Regions from separate parts of the Homo sapiens genome. Here all the other regions are reported to be linked to region 1. Evidence: microRNA targets listed by miRTarBase, many of them from high-throughput screens and not tested one by one. Region 1 holds a microRNA gene; each other region holds the end of a gene's coding sequence.
The links. Region 1 holds the annotated microRNA hsa-miR-1238-5p (GUGAGUGGGAGCCCCAGUGUGUG, at 1,883-1,905, shown strand). A microRNA usually pairs through its seed, bases 2 to 8, with sites in the 3' UTR of a target mRNA and lowers its output. Matches are read on the target gene's strand: a 7mer-m8 pairs with bases 2 to 8, a 7mer-A1 pairs with bases 2 to 7 and ends in A, and an 8mer does both.

Region 1 (4,191 bases):
TCAGGTGATCCACCCACCTCGGTCTCCCAAAGCGTTGGGATTACAGGCATGAGCCACTGCACCCAGCCTCTACACAACTTTAAAAAAACAGTAACCCAATGAAGGGCAGATGAGGGTAGCAGCAGAGCCTAGAAAAGCGCCTCTGCAGCCACCAGGCAAATGAGGAGCCAGAGGAGAAGTGCTCCAGGCAAAAGGAACAGCAAGACAGAGACCCTGAGGCTGGAAAGTCCCCTATGTATTTGCATCCGAATAAAAGCCAGTTTTCCCAGTGACCCACAGAGCCCGGCACTATTTGTCCACACCACCTTCTTGATGTCGGGATATCCCCCACCTTGACCTCATATCCTCCTCCCACACTCTGCTGCAGCCACAGGGGCCTCCTCACCTATTTCAGACACTCCCACCTCAGGGCCTTTGCGCTTGCTGCCCCTGCTGCTTGGAGCACTCTTTCAGCAGTGATGCATGTGGCTTTTTTTTTTTTTTTTTTTTTGAGACGGAGTCTTGCTCTGTCACTCAGGCTGGAGTGCAGTGGCATGATCTCAGCTCACTGCAAGCTCCACCTCCTGGGTTCATGCCATTCTCCTGCCTCAGCCTCCCGAGTAGCTGGGACTACAGGCGTCCGCCACCACTCCTGGCTAATTTTTGTATTTTTAATGGAGATGGGGTTTCATTGTGTTAATCAGGATGGTCTCGATCTCCTGACCTCGTGATCCTCCCGCTTCGGCCTCCCAAAGTACTGAGATTATGGACATGAGCCACTGCTTGGCTCCTGTTTTAAAATATTTTTTGCGTGGGGGGTTTTCCAGTGAGAACCAGAAAACCTGAGACAAATTCTAAAAGAGCTGTAATGTTTGACCTCTTTACTTAAAATCACAAGGCTCCCTTCCCTCTTTTATTCTTTTCCATATAGTTATCACCTCTAACACATGAGATAAATCATGTAATTGGCTGGGCGTGGTGGCCCACGCCTGTAATCCCAGCACTTTGGGAGGCAGGTGGATCACCTGAGGTCAGGAGTCCAAGACCAGTCTGGCCAACATGGTGAAACCTCGTCTCTACTAAAAATACAAAAATTAGCTGGGCGTGGTGGCGGGCGCCTGTAATCCCAGCTGCTCGGGAGGCTGAGGCAGGAGAACTGCTTGAACCCAGGAGATGGAGGTTTCGGTGAGCCAAGATCGTGCTACTGCACTCCAGCCTGTAATCCCAGCACTTTAGGAGGCCGAGACGGGCAGATCACCTGAGGTTAGGAGGAGTTCCAGACCAGCCTGGCTAACATGGTGAAACCCCATTTTTACTAAAAATACAAAAAATTAACCCGGGTGTGGTGGCGGGTGCCTGTAATCCCAGCTACTTGAGAAGCTGAGGCAGGAGAATCGCTTGAACTTAGGAGGCGGAGGTTGCGGTGAGCCAATTGGGCCACTGCACTCCAGGCTGGGTGACAGAGTGAGACTCCGTCTCAAAAAAAAAAAAAAAAAAAAAATTCATGTAATCATCTTCCTTGTTAGTCTCTCACACTAGGATGTCAGCTCCTGAGGGCAAGGGTTTTGTGGTCTTGATCACTGCTGCCCTCCAGAGGCTGGGTTCTCACAGAGGAGGTGTTTGCCAAGCGTTTGTTGAGTGGCTGCCTGACAGCACCTGCCTACCCTCCTCCCTGCAGGAACTCCTGCGTTGCGAGCTGTGCCTGGGCATCATGGGTGGGAAACCGCGACACTCACTGTACTTCATTGGCTACCAAGGTAGGCCCACCCCCTCCTCACTCCTCCCACCCCCCACCGCACCCCCACTCACACCTGCACCCCCTGCAGATGACTTCCTGCTGTACCTGGACCCTCACTACTGCCAGCCCACTGTGGATGTCAGCCAGGCCGACTTCCCCCTGGAGGTGAGTGGGAGCCCCAGTGTGTGGTTGGGGCCATGGCGGGTGGGCAGCCCAGCCTCTGAGCCTTCCTCGTCTGTCTGCCCCAGTCCTTCCACTGCACCTCGCCCCGCAAGATGGCCTTTGCCAAGATGGACCCAAGCTGTACCGTGGGCTTCTATGCTGGAGACAGGAAGGAGTTTGAGACACTCTGCTCAGAGCTGACCAGGGTGAGCAAGAGGAAAGCTGGAGTGGGGTGAGGGGGGCGGTTGGGCAGGGCTGGGGGTGAAAGAGGAACAGAGGCCTCGAGTCCAGCAGAGCTGGGGTGCTGCTTCCAGGCTAGGGGTCCTAACCTGGGAAATGTGAAGAATGTCCACCCCTGAAAAGGTGGGAACGCCAAAGCCCACTGTTAAGGCATCATCCCTTGGAGGCAGCTGTATCCAGGGGCTCAAGTGGTGGGAACCCTCCCTGTCTCTTGGCCCTGCTGTCCGACCAGGACTCTACCCTTATGGGGGCGAGAGATGGCCACCAGCCATTCTGGGCACCCACCCTGTGGTCACTGGAAGGGAAACGCAGGTTTTGCAGCAAAAATCCCAGGACTGTCAGTCTTTGGCTGAGCTGGGTCACATGCTCATGGCTGAGCCAATCACTGTGGCCAGGGGATGGAAGGTGCTGATTGGCTGCTCTCTCCTGGAGAGGTGGTCCTGAGAAGCACCTACTAAATAAACCTGGGCTAAGGAATATGGCTTGGCACTGTTTGTGGCTGACCCTGTCTCCCTCTTCCCGCCAGGTCCTCAGCTCCTCCTCAGCCACAGAGCGGTACCCCATGTTCACCCTGGCCGAGGGCCATGCTCAGGACCACAGCCTGGACGACCTCTGCTCCCAGCTCGCCCAGCCCACACTCCGGCTCCCTCGCACAGGGCGGCTCCTCAGGGCCAAACGCCCCAGCTCTGAGGACTTTGTGTTTTTATAAAGGGAGGGGATGAGGGGAAAGATACAACACTATTTATTTTTTTATTTATGTCATGTCGGGTGTGGGATCTTGAGCTCTGGCAGTGATGATGGTACTTCCTGTTGTCAGCCCCTCAAGCCCAGCTGCAACCAGTCTGGGGCCATTCAGCCAGGGACAGAGCCCACAGAGCCCATACACCTGTCTCCCACCAGCGGGGCCCTCCTGGCAGGGTAGGGAAGGAGGACCCCGGGCACCCCCCTCAGGGCCTGACTCACGTACTGTAGTTTGCACTGGACGCCCGGGCCCTCCCTGTCCCAAAGCCCCCTTGGGGGAACTGTGGCTGCTGGGGGCCAATAAAGCTGTGTAACTTGATCGTGGGTGTGGCTGGGCGCAGCGTTCTGAGGGGATGTGGGGTCTGGGAGGTGTCTCGAGGTGAGAGCTCCAAGTCACGGGAAGTTTAAGTCAGCCTCAGTTTCCACATCCATAAAATGGGACGACTTCCTTACCCACAGCTACACGTGTTTTTTAATTTTTTTTTTTTTTTCAAGAGACAGGGTCTTGCTTTGTTGCCCAGGCTGGAGTGCAGTGGTGCAATCATAGCTCTCTGTAGCCTCAAACTCATGGCCTTAAGTGATCTTCCTTCCCCAGCCTCCTGAGTAGCTGGGACTACAGGCATGTGTCACCACATTTTGTAGAGATGGAGTCTCGCTAAGTTGCCCACGCTGGTCTCCAATTCCTGGGCTCAAGTGATCCTTTCACCTCGGCCTCCCAAAGTGCTGGGATTACAGGCGTGCCTGGCCACAGATGAGAGGATCTCTGCAGCAGATAGTACTTGTGGGTGCGAGACCTGTCCAGGGCTTGATTTGAGGAGAGGAGCCTGAGGCCCCTGCCTGCTCCCTGGTGCTCAGGAGCTGTTCTTGGGCCCCTGTTGTTTCCTCCGCTGCCGGCCCAGCTGGCGGAAGTGCAGCCGTTTGGGGTTGAGGCCAAAGGCCTGCAGTCTCTGGCGGCTGAACTCGCATCCACCAAGCATCACAGTGGGGCCCAGCAGCCGTGCCTTCTTGGCCCTCCTCCGCTTCTGGGGGGCTGGCTTCTTGTGGGGTGATACAGGGGCTTCCTCTTCCTGTGCTGGGGGACTCTCCGGCCCCATCAAGCTGCCATCAAGGGCTGGCAGCTGCCTCTGTGGGCCGGCTTCATCTCTCTGTGGCTTCCCTGTGGCTTCCGCAGGTGTCTCTGCCCTGAGGGAGAAAAGTCAGGGCTCAGCCCAGGCCTGTCAAGATCAGGCCCATTCTTGAGCACGCATGCCCCATTTTACAGACAGGGAAAGGAGGGGCATAGTGAAGCAGCCGCACAGCGACCGAGGGCCTGCCTGGGATTCAGACCTGGG
Region 2 (3,000 bases), not on the chromosome of region 1:
GGAGTGCTGTCCCAGCCCCAGAGGAAGAGTCCTTTGAGGTCTGGTTGGAACAGGCCACGGAGATAGTCAAAGAGTGGCCAGTAACAGAGGCAGAAAAGAAAAGGTGGCTGGCGGAAAGCCTGCGGGGCCCTGCCCTGGACCTCATGCACATAGTGCAGGCAGACAACCCGTCCATCAGTGTAGAAGAGTGTTTGGAGGCCTTTAAGCAAGTGTTTGGGAGCCTAGAGAGCCGCAGGACAGCCCAGGTGAGGTATCTGAAGACCTATCAGGAGGAAGGAGAGAAGGTCTCAGCCTATGTGTTACGGCTAGAAACCCTGCTCCGGAGAGCGGTGGAGAAACGCGCCATCCCTCGGCGTATTGCGGACCAGGTCCGCCTGGAGCAGGTCATGGCTGGGGCCACTCTTAACCAGATGCTGTGGTGCCGGCTTAGGGAGCTGAAGGATCAGGGCCCGCCCCCCAGCTTCCTTGAGCTAATGAAGGTAATACGGGAAGAAGAGGAGGAAGAGGCCTCCTTTGAGAATGAGAGTATCGAAGAGCCAGAGGAACGAGATGGCTATGGCCGCTGGAATCATGAGGGAGACGACTGAAAACCACCTGGGGGCAGGACCCACAGCCAGTGGGCTAAGACCTTTAAAAAATTTTTTTCTTTAATGTATGGGACTGAAATCAAACCATGAAAGCCAATTATTGACCTTCCTTCCTTCCTTCCTTCCCTCCCTTCCTCCTTCTCTCCTTCTCTCCTCCTCTCTCCTCTCCTCTCCTCTCTTTCCTTCCTTCCTTCCTTTTTTCTTTTTCTCTTTCTTCTTTATTTCTTGGGTCTCACTCTCATCACCCAGGCTAGAGTGCAGTGGCACAAAAATCTCGGCTCACTGCAGCCTTGACTTCCCAGGCTCAGGCTCAGGTGATCCTCACACCTTAGCCTCCCAAGTACCTGGGACTACAGGCACGCACCACCATGCCTAGCTATTCTTTTGTATTTTTGGTAGAGACAGGGTTTTGCTGTGTTGCTCAGGCTGGTCTGGAACCCCTAGGCTCAAATGATGTGCCCAACTCGGCCTCCCAAAGTGCTGGGATTACAGGCATGAACCGCCATGCCTGGCCCTTGATTTTTCTTTTTAAGAAAAAAATATCTAGGAGTTTCTTAGACCCTATGTAGATTATTAATGAACAAAAGATTAAACTCCAAATATTAAATAGTAAGCCTGAAGGAATCTGAAACACTTGTACTTCCAATTTTCTTTAAATAATCCCAAATAGACCAGAATTGGCCCATACCATAGAAGAAAGAATTGGCAGTCAAAAAAAAAAATACCTTTTGTAATGTTTGAAAAATAAAGCTGTTTGACTTGTCAGGTGTTTTCCTTTCTCAAATCAGCAAATTCTCTCTGAGTGCCTGGCTTTGTGAGACACTGTACAAGGAGTTACAAGACTACAGCTATAACCTGCAGTTGAGCAGTTATAAACCTACAAAATGGGCCCTGCCCTCAGAGAGGTTCCAGTCTAGATGAGGAGCTGATCTAGACAGGTAAAAGGCTAACTAACCCTTTGTGTAAATAAGTTCATCACCCCAGTAAAAGTGTCATCACCCAGTGAATAGGACCACCTCTGCCTGCAGATTTTTGTTGTTGTTGTTGTCATTGTTGTTGTTGTTTTAACCTGGGAAGTGTTCTTCCTGCCTTTCTGCTAGGTGTCAGATAGATGGTCCCAGAGCTAGGTGCTGTGTCAGGCCCTGAAGACACAGATGACTCAACCTAAGCTTTACTTTCCAGAGGTCCACAGCCTGAGAGGTGTCCCCAAAGAAAGGGGGACATGAGGGGACTGCATGCTTGAGAGCAGGGTTGTTTAGGGCAGGTTTGGATTTAGTGAGCAGGCTGGTTTGCTTAGAGAAGGCTTTTAGTGGCAACAAAGGATGAAGAGGAGAGAAAAGGAACTCACATTTATTGAGGGCCTACTGTGTGCAAAGTGTTTCATGTATATCTCATTGAATGTATACAGCCACCCTGTTGTGGTATAATTTTGCTCTTTATAAAGAGAAAGACCGAAGCTCAGATGAGTTAAGTGGTCTCCTCAACACCAAAATGCCAAGAAGTGATGGAGCCTAGACAGAAGCCCAGAACTTTCTGACTCACACTAGTCCATCCTCTACCATCACGATGACTTTCAAATTGTGCTCTGCAGTTCTGCAGATTTTCTAGCAGTGCCATCTCCAAAATGTGTTTTAAACTCTTTATTTTTTTAATTATTATTAGTATTATTTTGAGACTGAGTCTTGCTCTATCACCCAGGCTGGAGTGCAGTGGTGCAATCTCAGCTCACTGCAACCTCCGCCTCCCAGGTTCAAGCGATTTCGTGCCTCAGCCTCCCGAGTAGCTGGGATTACAGGCACCCACCACCACGCCCAGCTAATTTTTGTATTTTTAGTAGAAATGGGGTTTCACCATGTTGGCCAGGCTGGTCTCGAACTCCTGACCTCAAGTGATCCACTCACCTCGGCCTCCCAAAGTGCTGGGATTACAGGTGTGAGCCACCATGCCTGGGCTAAACTCTTTAAGTCTCTAGTAAATGCAGCTAGATTCAAATGGGCTGATAACCAAATTTTAACACATCAGCATTCACCACCAGGTTTACTTTTATTTTCAGATTGGCTCATTTTGTGCAGACCTTAGAGCAAAGTTTCCTTTATGGTATCTGTGTACGTATCCAAACTTCTTTTAATTGTTCACAGATTTTAAAAGCGGTAGCACCACATGGTTGTGTAGATCAGACCTGTGTATTTAGATCAGACCTGTGTATCACGTAAGTGTGTGAGTGCAGTGCAGATGAGCACCATTTAGTTATATGTGCTAGGCAAATCTCCAACACAGTTGATGTGTAGTCTTGTGGTAGATTTGTGCATACTGTAAGCAAATTGCTTAGCTTCTCTAGACATCAGTTTCCACATCTGAAAAATAAGAAGATGAGAGTACACGGTTGTTATGAACAAATGACTTAATGCTTTTT
Region 3 (3,000 bases), not on the chromosome of region 1:
CTGAGAGGCAGAGGACCTCAAGCACCCAGAGAAAAGTTTTAAGAGTCAGGGGAAATACTCCTTCTCAGGGGCAGTGTTCCAGCCGGAGCCCCGCTAACACAGGGGCACTACTTTCTTCTTGATGTTGTCCAGCAGGCACTGTGTGGGCTGGAGGGGGCTGACGTCATCCTTTGCATGGGCGATGGCACTTGGTGCTGGCCACTGCACGGTGCTAAAGTGAGCTTTGCGATTGGCTTCTCCCTGAGCAGGACCAGGGACAGCCAAACTATATACGCCCAGAAAACTTTGGTTTTGACCTGGGCAGGCGGCTGCACCCTGAGTAAGGGTGCATGAGCTGCCATGAGGGTCAGGGGTTCCTGGCAATCAGGTTTCTTGGATGCAGGGTGGCCCCCAGTGGGTGGGCACTGAGTTGTGAGGCTGCAGGGTGTGGAGTGACTAGGGTGAACCATGGTTGGAGGTGGCCCGTGGGAAGCTGGGGCAGCAGGAGCCAAGCAGCCAGGCTGAGCTGGCAGCTGATGAAGGCCTCAGAGAAGCTCTCAGCGCATGGCTGGCTGGTCCAACACCAAAACTTTCAAAGCATTTGCCTTTCTGGCAGGGCCTGGAGCAGGGCTGTGGCTGGGCCGGGAGAGGCCTCAGTGCGCAGGGGAATAGAAGCCCCAGATCTGCATCCAGAGGCGATTTTCCCAGGCTCCTTCCTCCCACACTGTGGCTCCCTCCCTCGGTTCTGGAGCTTAATCAGGCCCTTCCAGCCAAGTCCTCATGGCTGCACGACTCAGCCCTGAGCTGGGCTGCTCCTGTGTGGGGAGACAAAAACCAGGGCAGAACCTAGGACAAAGGCTCATTAGGGGCAGCCCAAGTCCCCTCCCACCAAGGATGGCTCCCAGTCTACCAGCTGCCAGAAAGGGCCATTGAGCTAGGAGGCCTGAACTGCCCAAATTTCTATTTGAGCCTTCCTTTCCTGGTCTGGTCTAATCCAACTCAGGAGAGGCTTCAGGAAATGGGGAAGACACAGCAAAATGGCAAGTAGTGGCAAACCACACTAGAACTGGTGACTGCACTAGGTATAGTGTGGGAGGAGCTGGTGTCTCCCTTGGCCCAGCCCAACTCCCCTCTGCCTGTGGATTGGATTCAGCCTCCTCCCCCACTCAACCTTTAGCTAGACTTGCTGACAGGAACAAAACAGACTGGTTTGAGTTTCGCCTCTTTTCATTTCCTTTGCCCTCCCTCTGAAAGTGGTTTTAATGAGCAGTGAGATGGCTAAAAGGGCTGGGCGTGGTGGCTCACATCTGTAATCCCAGCACTTTGGGAGGCCAAGGTGGGAGGATCGCCTGAGCCCGGGAGTTTGAGACCAGCCTGGGCAACACAGTGAGGCCCCATCTCTACAAAAAATCAGAAAAGTTAGCTGGGTATGGTGGTGCATGCCCATGGTCCCAGCTACTCTGGAGGCTAAGGTGGGAGGATTGCTTGAGCCCAGGAGTCAAGACTGCATTGAGTTGTGATTGCGCCACTGCATTCCAGCCTGGGTGACAGAGTGAGACCATGTCTCTTAAAACGAAAAGAATAATGGCTAAAAGACAATCAGGGAGTAAAGCATCTGGAGAATTAAATGGTCTCTCCCCAGTGGAACCATAGCACCTGGGCCTGGCTGCCCAAGGAGCCAGGGGCCACAGCATGAAGGGCAGAGCTGTGGCTCCAGCAGCACCAGGCCTCACCTCCTGCCTGTCTTATCTCAGGGTCCTGGAGCATCCAGATGGAGAGGGGCAATGCCCTGGTGGTGCTGCGCAGCCTGCTCTGGCCGGGCCTCACCTTCTACCATGCTCCCCGCACCAAGAACTATGGCTACGTCTACGTGGGCACTGGCGAGAAGAACATGGACTTGCCCTTCATGCTATAGAATGGGAGCCAGCCTGGATGTTTTTAAACAGAGTCTAAACATGATTTTCTTAAGCTTCAGTGAACTTGGCCTGCCTGTTCTGTCCTATCTTCTTAACTCCACCTCCGTCTGGTTCCAGATTCTGAAAGGCCCACTGAGCCAGGGAGCTCATTTCTAAACCAAGTGGCAGAGGGGTTGGAATGTGCTAATGAAAGAGATTCTAGACAACGATGGGTGGAAATGGCTGTGGGAGAAGGTGACAACCAGGGCCCCTTTGAGGAACGCAGTTTCTTGGATTCACACGAGAGCGGCAAGTGTGTCAGGCAGCCCACCTTGGCTCCCTGCAGCTCTCCCACAGTAAGGAGCTCACAGCTGTCATGAAGAGGATGGGACCTGTTTGGCCCATGAATTCAATTGACTCATTGGCCCCATCACAAGAGATCAGTGACTCAATGCTCAGCACCCAGCTGGCAATGTGCCCAGGACCCCCTGCACTTCCCAAGCAGTGAGCGCACACCCAATGGGTAAGCCCATGAACCCAGTTTATGACACTGCGTTGGGCAAAACTCCTGTCCCCAGCACTGAGCATGGCCTAAGCCCCATAGCAGCTGGCAAGGGACCCAACTGCCCTGCCTGCCTCTAGCTCCCAGCATTGCTACTGTGCAGGCCAAGGGTACTGAAGTTAGTCCCACTGTCCCCTGTCCATGCATGTTGGAGGGACCAGGCCATCGTGGTGGGGTGGGACAGGAGTATAGTTGTGGCCAAGGGCTTGTGAGTGGGCCTCCTACTCCCCAGCACAGGTGCAGGAGGAACTCTGGAAGCACTGCTCTCTGTCAGTGATACAGCTTCCAAGGTGTTCTTGAGTAGCAGACATTGTCCCTCAGAAGGGGTGACCCCACGGGCATGCGCACCCTGTTCCAGCGGGGGCCTTTTTTGTAGATGGGCTTGACGGAGCCAGGAGCCCAGCGCGTCAGGTACCTGTGGAGGGAGAACAAAGAGGTGCCTGTGAGGGCTGGGGGCCCAAGCTGGACGTGGGAGAGTGGAGCACTACCTCCTCAGGCCAGGCCACGGTTGGGCAAGCAAATCCTTTCACCAGTTTCCCTTTCCTGAAGTGCAGGGATTTTCCT
Region 4 (3,000 bases), not on the chromosome of region 1:
ACCATCTTGGTCAGGCTGGTCTCGAACTCCTGACCTCAGGTGATCCGCCCACCTCAGCCTCCCAAAGTGCTGAGATTACAGGTGTGAGCCACCAAGCCCAGCCTAGAGTTGCTTTTCCCTAACTTCATGGACCAGATCTGGAAAAAGTGCAGAATCACAGTGGCCACTCACAGGGCTGTTGGGACTTCGCGCTGATGCTCAGACACTGGCCCAGTCCTACTGGCTCCACACGAGGGAGCTCGGGTTCAGTGGCAGTAGTGGGAGAGCTGAGGCAGCACGGTCTGGTCCTGAGGAAAGGGCCGCAAGAGCCTGGGAGTGGTTGTGTTTGGATCGTTGAGTTGGTGCTGCATGGTGTAGCGTCAGCTGCATGCAGGGGTCTGGGGGTTGGGGAGTGTGGGATGCCTGGTGTTCTGTGCTCCTGCCCCTGAGGCCCAGGATCCAGCATGGCAACGGGTCCCAGCAGGGAGGGTGTGGGTGTGGCAGGGGTGAAGTGGCTTCAGAGGCAACTGTTGGCCTTTTCCTGTGCCCAGGACTACCCCATCACAGATGTCTGCCAGATCCTGCAGAAAGCCAAGGAGCTCCAAGACTCAAAGTAGCCCGGCGGCAAGAGGCCCATGTTCCGGAGAGAAGCCTCCCGACCCTGTGCCCTGGCTCCCGGGACACATAGAAACCTGTAGGAACCCAGCCTGAGGGGAAGCCACAGGATCGGCCCGAGACCCAGGCCATGCCCACTGGGGACACACTGTGCCGTGCTCCTTCTGCCGCCACGCCCAGCTCCCCACCTGCCCTGCACTCTGCCCTCTTTGCCCAGGATACTGAGGAGGGCTGGAGCTCGGGAAGTTGTCCTTCCTGGGCCAGGGCCGTTTCTGGCACTGGGAGGCTGGCAGGGGCCCCTCCCTGCCTCGGCTCTGCCGCCCCAGCCTCAGTTCCTGCTTCTGGTCTTCTCCTGGGCTCCACTCAGGGGAGGTGCTTGGCCAATGGGCCAGAAACCGCTTCTGAGCGGGGCACTTCGGCTGCTCCACAGGGAAGGCGACACTGAAAGCTGAGTCCTGCCGTCTGTCTCACCCACAGATGTCTGTAGTCGGTCGGTGTGAATGTGGGCCCAAGTCCCCAGGCATCTTCTCCGTGTGTGTGTGTGTGTGTGTGTGTGTGTGTGTGTGTGTGTGTGTGTGTTAGGGAGTGAGGGTCTCTCAGGCCTCCAGGTCTCCCAGCCCCTCCTTCTCTGTCTCTACCTCTCTGCCTGTCTCCTTCCACCTCCTTCCCAGAGTGGGACTGTGTCTTGCTTCATGATTCCTCTCTCCATTACTCTCCCTGCCCTTCTCTGTTGGGGTGCCTTATCCTGAGCCACCTCCTCTCCCCGCTTGCCTCTGCTCCCCTGAACCTGGGAGACAGATGAGGAGACTGGCTCAGCAAGGCCCCTGGAGGTCAAGCTTGGCCTTTGCCTCCTGTTCCCATCCCCCAGCCCTGGCTCCTAGGTCCTCCCAACTGGGAGGGAGTCCTCCGTGCCTCACTTAGAGGGTTCTGAACCCGTTCCCTACACAGAAATCTTGGAAACCAAATGCTGCTGAGTAAGGATGAAGCTTTGAGCCTCCTGCCCCTGCTTTCTGCCCAGGGAGGGAGAAGGAAGAGGGGGAGCTGGTTTTTCTGGAGGTTCCCCCAGAGGCCCTCCTGTCCGAAAAGAAAAGGACCTTGATTCTGAGCCCAGGGTCGGAACCCATTGCTTCAGAAGAGTTGTCATTCCCTCGGCTTCCAGGTCCCAACCCAGGGTTGGGTTGAGTGAGTCCCACAAAGGGCAAGTGGGGCCCGAGGAAGCCTCTCTGGGGCCAGGGGTAGCTGAGCTTAAAGGCCCTGGGTCCTGCCAGTTCCAGGAGGGCCATGTCTGTGCCTCTGTGTACCCCTCCACCCGCTGCGGGCTGAGGGAGGTGCAGGGCCTTCTCTGACCCCTGCCTGAGCTGTTCCCAGGGCTGGAGCAGGTGTACCCTGAGCAGGGGCAGCTGGCCACTCCCAGTTCTCACCAAGTCACCTCCCTCCTTGTACAAGGTTTGCGTCCGGAAGCCGGGTGCCATAGTGAGGACCCTCGTCCTCCAGACTGGCTGGCAGGAGTCAGGCCCCAGCAGCCCTCCTGCCCCCAAAGCTTTCCGAGTCTGGTGGGCAGGACTTCTCGCTGCCCTTCCAAGCCCGGCTTTGGGCCAGGAAAGGCTTCCCCAGGTGGCTCTTCTACCAGGCTTTTCCTTTGATGCCGCCTGGATTTCCGCACCTGCCTGTCTCCTCTCCCAGAGCACAGTATTTGGGAGACTTTGACTATTTATTCAGACTCCTGGCTATGTATTGCACATTGGCAAGTGCTCTGGGGATGAGGCATGGGTATAGGAAGGGAGAAAGGAGTTGGAGACAAGATCCTCTTCATTTTCCAAGATCAAAGTCAGCCTCTTCTCCCCATGCTTCTAGGAACTGCCTGGTTTTCGAGCAGGTCCTGGCTGAGCGGGCTCTGAGTTCTGTACTGGAATTGAGTGTAAAGATGGGAAGAGAACTGGGCTGACTCCAGGACCTCCAGGATGAGGCAGAGGCATGATGCTTCCTGCTCACCTGGGCCACCCTCTCTCCAGGACTTGTCAGCTGGTGGTTCAGCCCCTTCTCCAACCCCTTCATAAGCTTGGGCCACTGCCTGGGACCCAGCAGACACTGCCCAGGACTCTTTAGTGCACTCACTCTTGTCTGCCCCCTACCTTCCCTCCTGGAACCACACTACTTGAATCACCATTACTTTGCCTCGCTGGCAGAGTTGGGTCAAGTGCCCTCTCCTTGACCTTGAGATGAAGGTCAAGAGCACAGGGACCAGGCCTTGGTTAGGCTGAGCTCCCAGCAGGACACCGCCTGCAGAAAGGACCTGCCCTGATAATGTCCCTTCCCCAGATTCTCAAGCAGATGCCCAAGGGAGGTCCCCACAGAGCCAGAGTGCCTGAGGCTTCCTGCTTGAGAACCTGCCCCCTGGATCTTGGA
Region 5 (3,000 bases), not on the chromosome of region 1:
AAAGAAATGGTGGGGTAGGAGGCTGAAATGTACACGGTTGTTTGTAAAGGAATGTGTAACCGTGAAAGTATGTTTTTGTGTTTCACAGCTGGTAATCACCCATTTTCATTGGTAGAGTCTGTCCTTACCCAGAATGGTGAGCTGAATTATATTTAAGGTTCTGACAATATTCCCAGGCTTCAGGGGGGTGTTGCTTTGCTCCTTCTACCTTCCTTCCCACCTCCCCAAGATGCTCTCCCTGACTCAAATTTTCAGAAAAGGTTCAAATGTCCCAGCACTAAATTGTGTAAGTTTATTCAGGGAAGGCAGGAGAGCTCACACGGAGTCCTCTGTCCCCTTGTAGCAATGGTTCTCCAATTTCTTTGAATATTTAACCACAGAAATACATTTTATATCACAATCTTACACATACAGACATAATACATAACTAAGATGGCTTTCACGAAACAATATACTTACACTATAGTGATCACTGATATTTCCTTTTAAAAAAAAATGGCCATAACCAACTAAATTGATTTCACACATACCAGTATGGGCCCAGTTTGAAAAATCCTGTTCTTACAAAGTGGCCCCACATACAAGAAATGCACCCACTCTATAAGGGCTTCTCTCTCTCCCTTTCCTCCTTCCTTTCTTCATCCTTTATAACCAATTCATTTTTAGAGACAGGGTCTATGTTGCGCAGGCTGGCTTTGAATTCCTGGGCTCAAGTGATCCTCCCGCCTCAGCCTCCTGAGTAGGTGGGACTACAGGCGTGCCACTATGCCTGGCTCTGGCTCTTCATTCTTTTTTTCCTTTTTTTTTTTTTTTTTTTGAGGCGGAGTCTCGCTCTGTCGCCCAGGCTGGAGTGCAGTGGCGGGATCTCGGCTCCCTGCAAGCTCCGCCTCCCGGGTTCACGCCATTCTCCTGCCTCAGCCTCCCAAGTAGCTGGGACCACAGGCGCCCGCCACCGCACCCGGCTAATTTTTTGTATTTTTAGTAGAGACGGGGTTTCACCGTGTTAGCCAGGATGGTCTCGATGTCCTGACCTCATGATCCGCCCGCCTCAGCCTCCCAAAGTGCTGGGATTACCGGCGTGAGCCACCACGCCCGGCCTCTTCATTCTTTCAGAAATGTCAACATTAAGTGCTTTTACTGTAATAAAACTTGGGACTTCAATGAGGCAAGAAGGGGCTGCAGTGTTGCCTTTAAATCAGTGGGTCCTCATTCACTGTCTGCACTGGGGAGGGGCAATATGACAGCACAACTGTTCATCTCACTCGCTCCACATCCTTAGAAGTAACACGATTTTTAGATTGGCTTCATGAAAATTAGCTCAGAGACTAAAGTAGCACTACAGAGGAATAAAAAAAATATTTGTTATATAAATAAGGATCTTATTAAAATACTAAGTAAGATACTATGCCACGGTATATATTCATAATTTAAAACCCACCTACTTGGGAAAACTTTGAGGTGCCATCTAATAAAAATGCAGCATGAAAGAATATTATGCCCTTGATAGTCACATAGTGTCTATAATTATGACAATGAATGTTCAGTGAGAAATCAAACGCCAACTGCAAGGGCAAAATATAATAAAAAATAGCTTAAAGTAGCTAGTGCCTTCAGGATAAAATCTGGAAAAGGGCTTTCTTGCTGATCTTTTTTTGAAACTTTGCTGCTCCTGAAGTTTTTACCCTTTAAGGCTCCTCAGTTTATATGAAGCTTGGAGGACAAATAACAGACAGGTTTGAGCCTAACAGATTTGTTTGAATCCCAAATTTACCAATGACTGCTTGTGTGACCTACTAAACTAAGCTCCAGGAGGGCCAGGCCAGGTGTCTTATTCAACCACAAAATCCCAGCGCCCCCAGCATGTGAGGCAAATTTCCTCCATCAGCATAGGAATCGGATGACCTGGGAAAGGGAGTATTGTTAGTTTTCCTAGCGCCAGCTTCAATAGGGATTGGGGTTATTTAAAAATACAGGAGAAAAGTAAGGAGGCACTCAAAAACAAAACACAAAACCCACATTGATGGGGGTATGTCAAAGGTGGGAACAGGAGATAACGGAAAGAGTTCCCAATGGTCAAAGCTGGGATAATTTGAGCAACAAAATAAAGCAGTATTAAATTGTAACCCAAAGTATAAAATATTCATGTGTCCACACTGATAAACATAAATGATCGAACTAATAAAGCGAAAGGGACAACTGTCCTTTGCAGAAGAATTTCAATTAATCATGTAGACCACTCCCAAGAAAGTACACTACAACTCCCCATTCCTTTAGTGTGGGCTGTGCATAGTGATTTCCTTCCAAAGAGCACAGTATGAAATGGGGGAAAAGAGTAACTTTACAATGGAGAAACCTGACAAACACTCCTTCAGCCAGGTGATCAGGTCGTCAACATCAACATCAATAACAGTCATAACCTTTTATTTCATGTCATAAAATGGTGACACTTACTTGTGTTAAAAAAATTTAATAACAATGTAATCATTATATCTCTGCAATCAGCTGAAGTTCTAAGAAAAAATGACAATGTTGAAAGTTGTATCATCATTATTATAAACTTTCATGTTCAGTATATGTAAACTCCAAAGCCAATTTCAAAAGATATTTTTGTGAAATACCATTCTTTAAAAAAAAGGATATTATATATAACTGTATGAATGTTAAATGTTTTACAGTACTGATTTGCTACATTTTATGTATGCTGTAAAACAAATACCATTTTAAAGTATATTGGAATTCGTAACTAAAGTAATAAATAAATGCTTGAAATATACCCAGTAGAAACTTATTTTTATTATCCAATCCTTTTGATAAGAAATGCCTCTAGTGTTATGTACAAACTTGATCTTCTTGGAAACGTGTTGTCCACTGCTTTTCTGTTTCTGTCACAGTAGCTATAAACAGCTGTTTAAGGATATCCTTATCTAAATTTCTGCCTGCAAACAAAACAAAATATGACGTGATTACATTATGCTTATTAAAATGACACAGTTCACCTAT

Region 2: the mRNA of PNMA2 is a reported target of hsa-miR-1238-5p. Seed matches in the 3' UTR shown: 7mer-m8 at 2,481-2,487.
Region 3: the mRNA of MRPS18A is a reported target of hsa-miR-1238-5p. Seed matches in the 3' UTR shown: 7mer-m8 at 2,646-2,652.
Region 4: miRTarBase lists TBC1D13 as a target of hsa-miR-1238-5p. Seed matches in the 3' UTR shown: 7mer-m8 at 954-960.
Region 5: miRTarBase lists ZNG1A as a target of hsa-miR-1238-5p. The part of its 3' UTR that is shown has no 7-base or 8-base seed match.

The regions. Positions count from the first base shown.
Region 1 is chr19:10,550,240-10,554,430 of GRCh38, forward strand. It overlaps MIR1238 (microRNA 1238), which reads left to right and starts at 1,883; the gene lies at 1,883-1,965. It overlaps ATG4D (autophagy related 4D cysteine peptidase), which reads left to right. Exons shown (of 10, transcript NM_032885.6): 7 at 1,658-1,736; 8 at 1,806-1,882; 9 at 1,966-2,085; 10 at 2,646-3,179. The coding sequence ends at 2,828. It overlaps KRI1 (KRI1 homolog), which reads right to left. Exons shown (of 19, transcript NM_023008.5): 19 at 2,846-4,042. The coding sequence ends at 3,712. It also overlaps the pseudogene RNU7-140P. RefSeq lists enhancers at 3,841-4,010, 4,031-4,080, 4,111-4,190.
Region 2 is chr8:26,505,248-26,508,247 of GRCh38, reverse strand. It overlaps PNMA2 (PNMA family member 2), which reads left to right. Exons shown (of 3, transcript NM_007257.6): 3 at 1-3,000. The coding sequence ends at 587. Among named protein-coding and RNA genes, the nearest start is that of PNMA2, 7.1 kb to the left of the region's middle.
Region 3 is chr6:43,669,056-43,672,055 of GRCh38, forward strand. It overlaps MRPS18A (mitochondrial ribosomal protein S18A), which reads right to left. Exons shown (of 6, transcript NM_018135.4): 6 at 2,147-2,851. The coding sequence ends at 2,707. RSPH9 (radial spoke head component 9) reads left to right here. Exons shown (of 5, transcript NM_152732.5): 5 at 1,734-3,000. The coding sequence ends at 1,894. Among named protein-coding and RNA genes, the nearest start is that of MRPS18A, 17 kb to the right of the region's middle. RefSeq lists a silencer at 1,006-1,245 and an enhancer at 2,438-3,000.
Region 4 is chr9:128,807,284-128,810,283 of GRCh38, forward strand. TBC1D13 (TBC1 domain family member 13) reads left to right here. Exons shown (of 12, transcript NM_018201.5): 12 at 531-3,000. The coding sequence ends at 596. Among named protein-coding and RNA genes, the nearest start is that of ENDOG, 9.7 kb to the right of the region's middle.
Region 5 is chr9:118,638-121,637 of GRCh38, forward strand. ZNG1A (Zn regulated GTPase metalloprotein activator 1A) reads right to left here. Exons shown (of 15, transcript NM_018491.5): 15 at 2,200-2,936. The coding sequence ends at 2,830. Among named protein-coding and RNA genes, the nearest start is that of FOXD4, 1.7 kb to the left of the region's middle.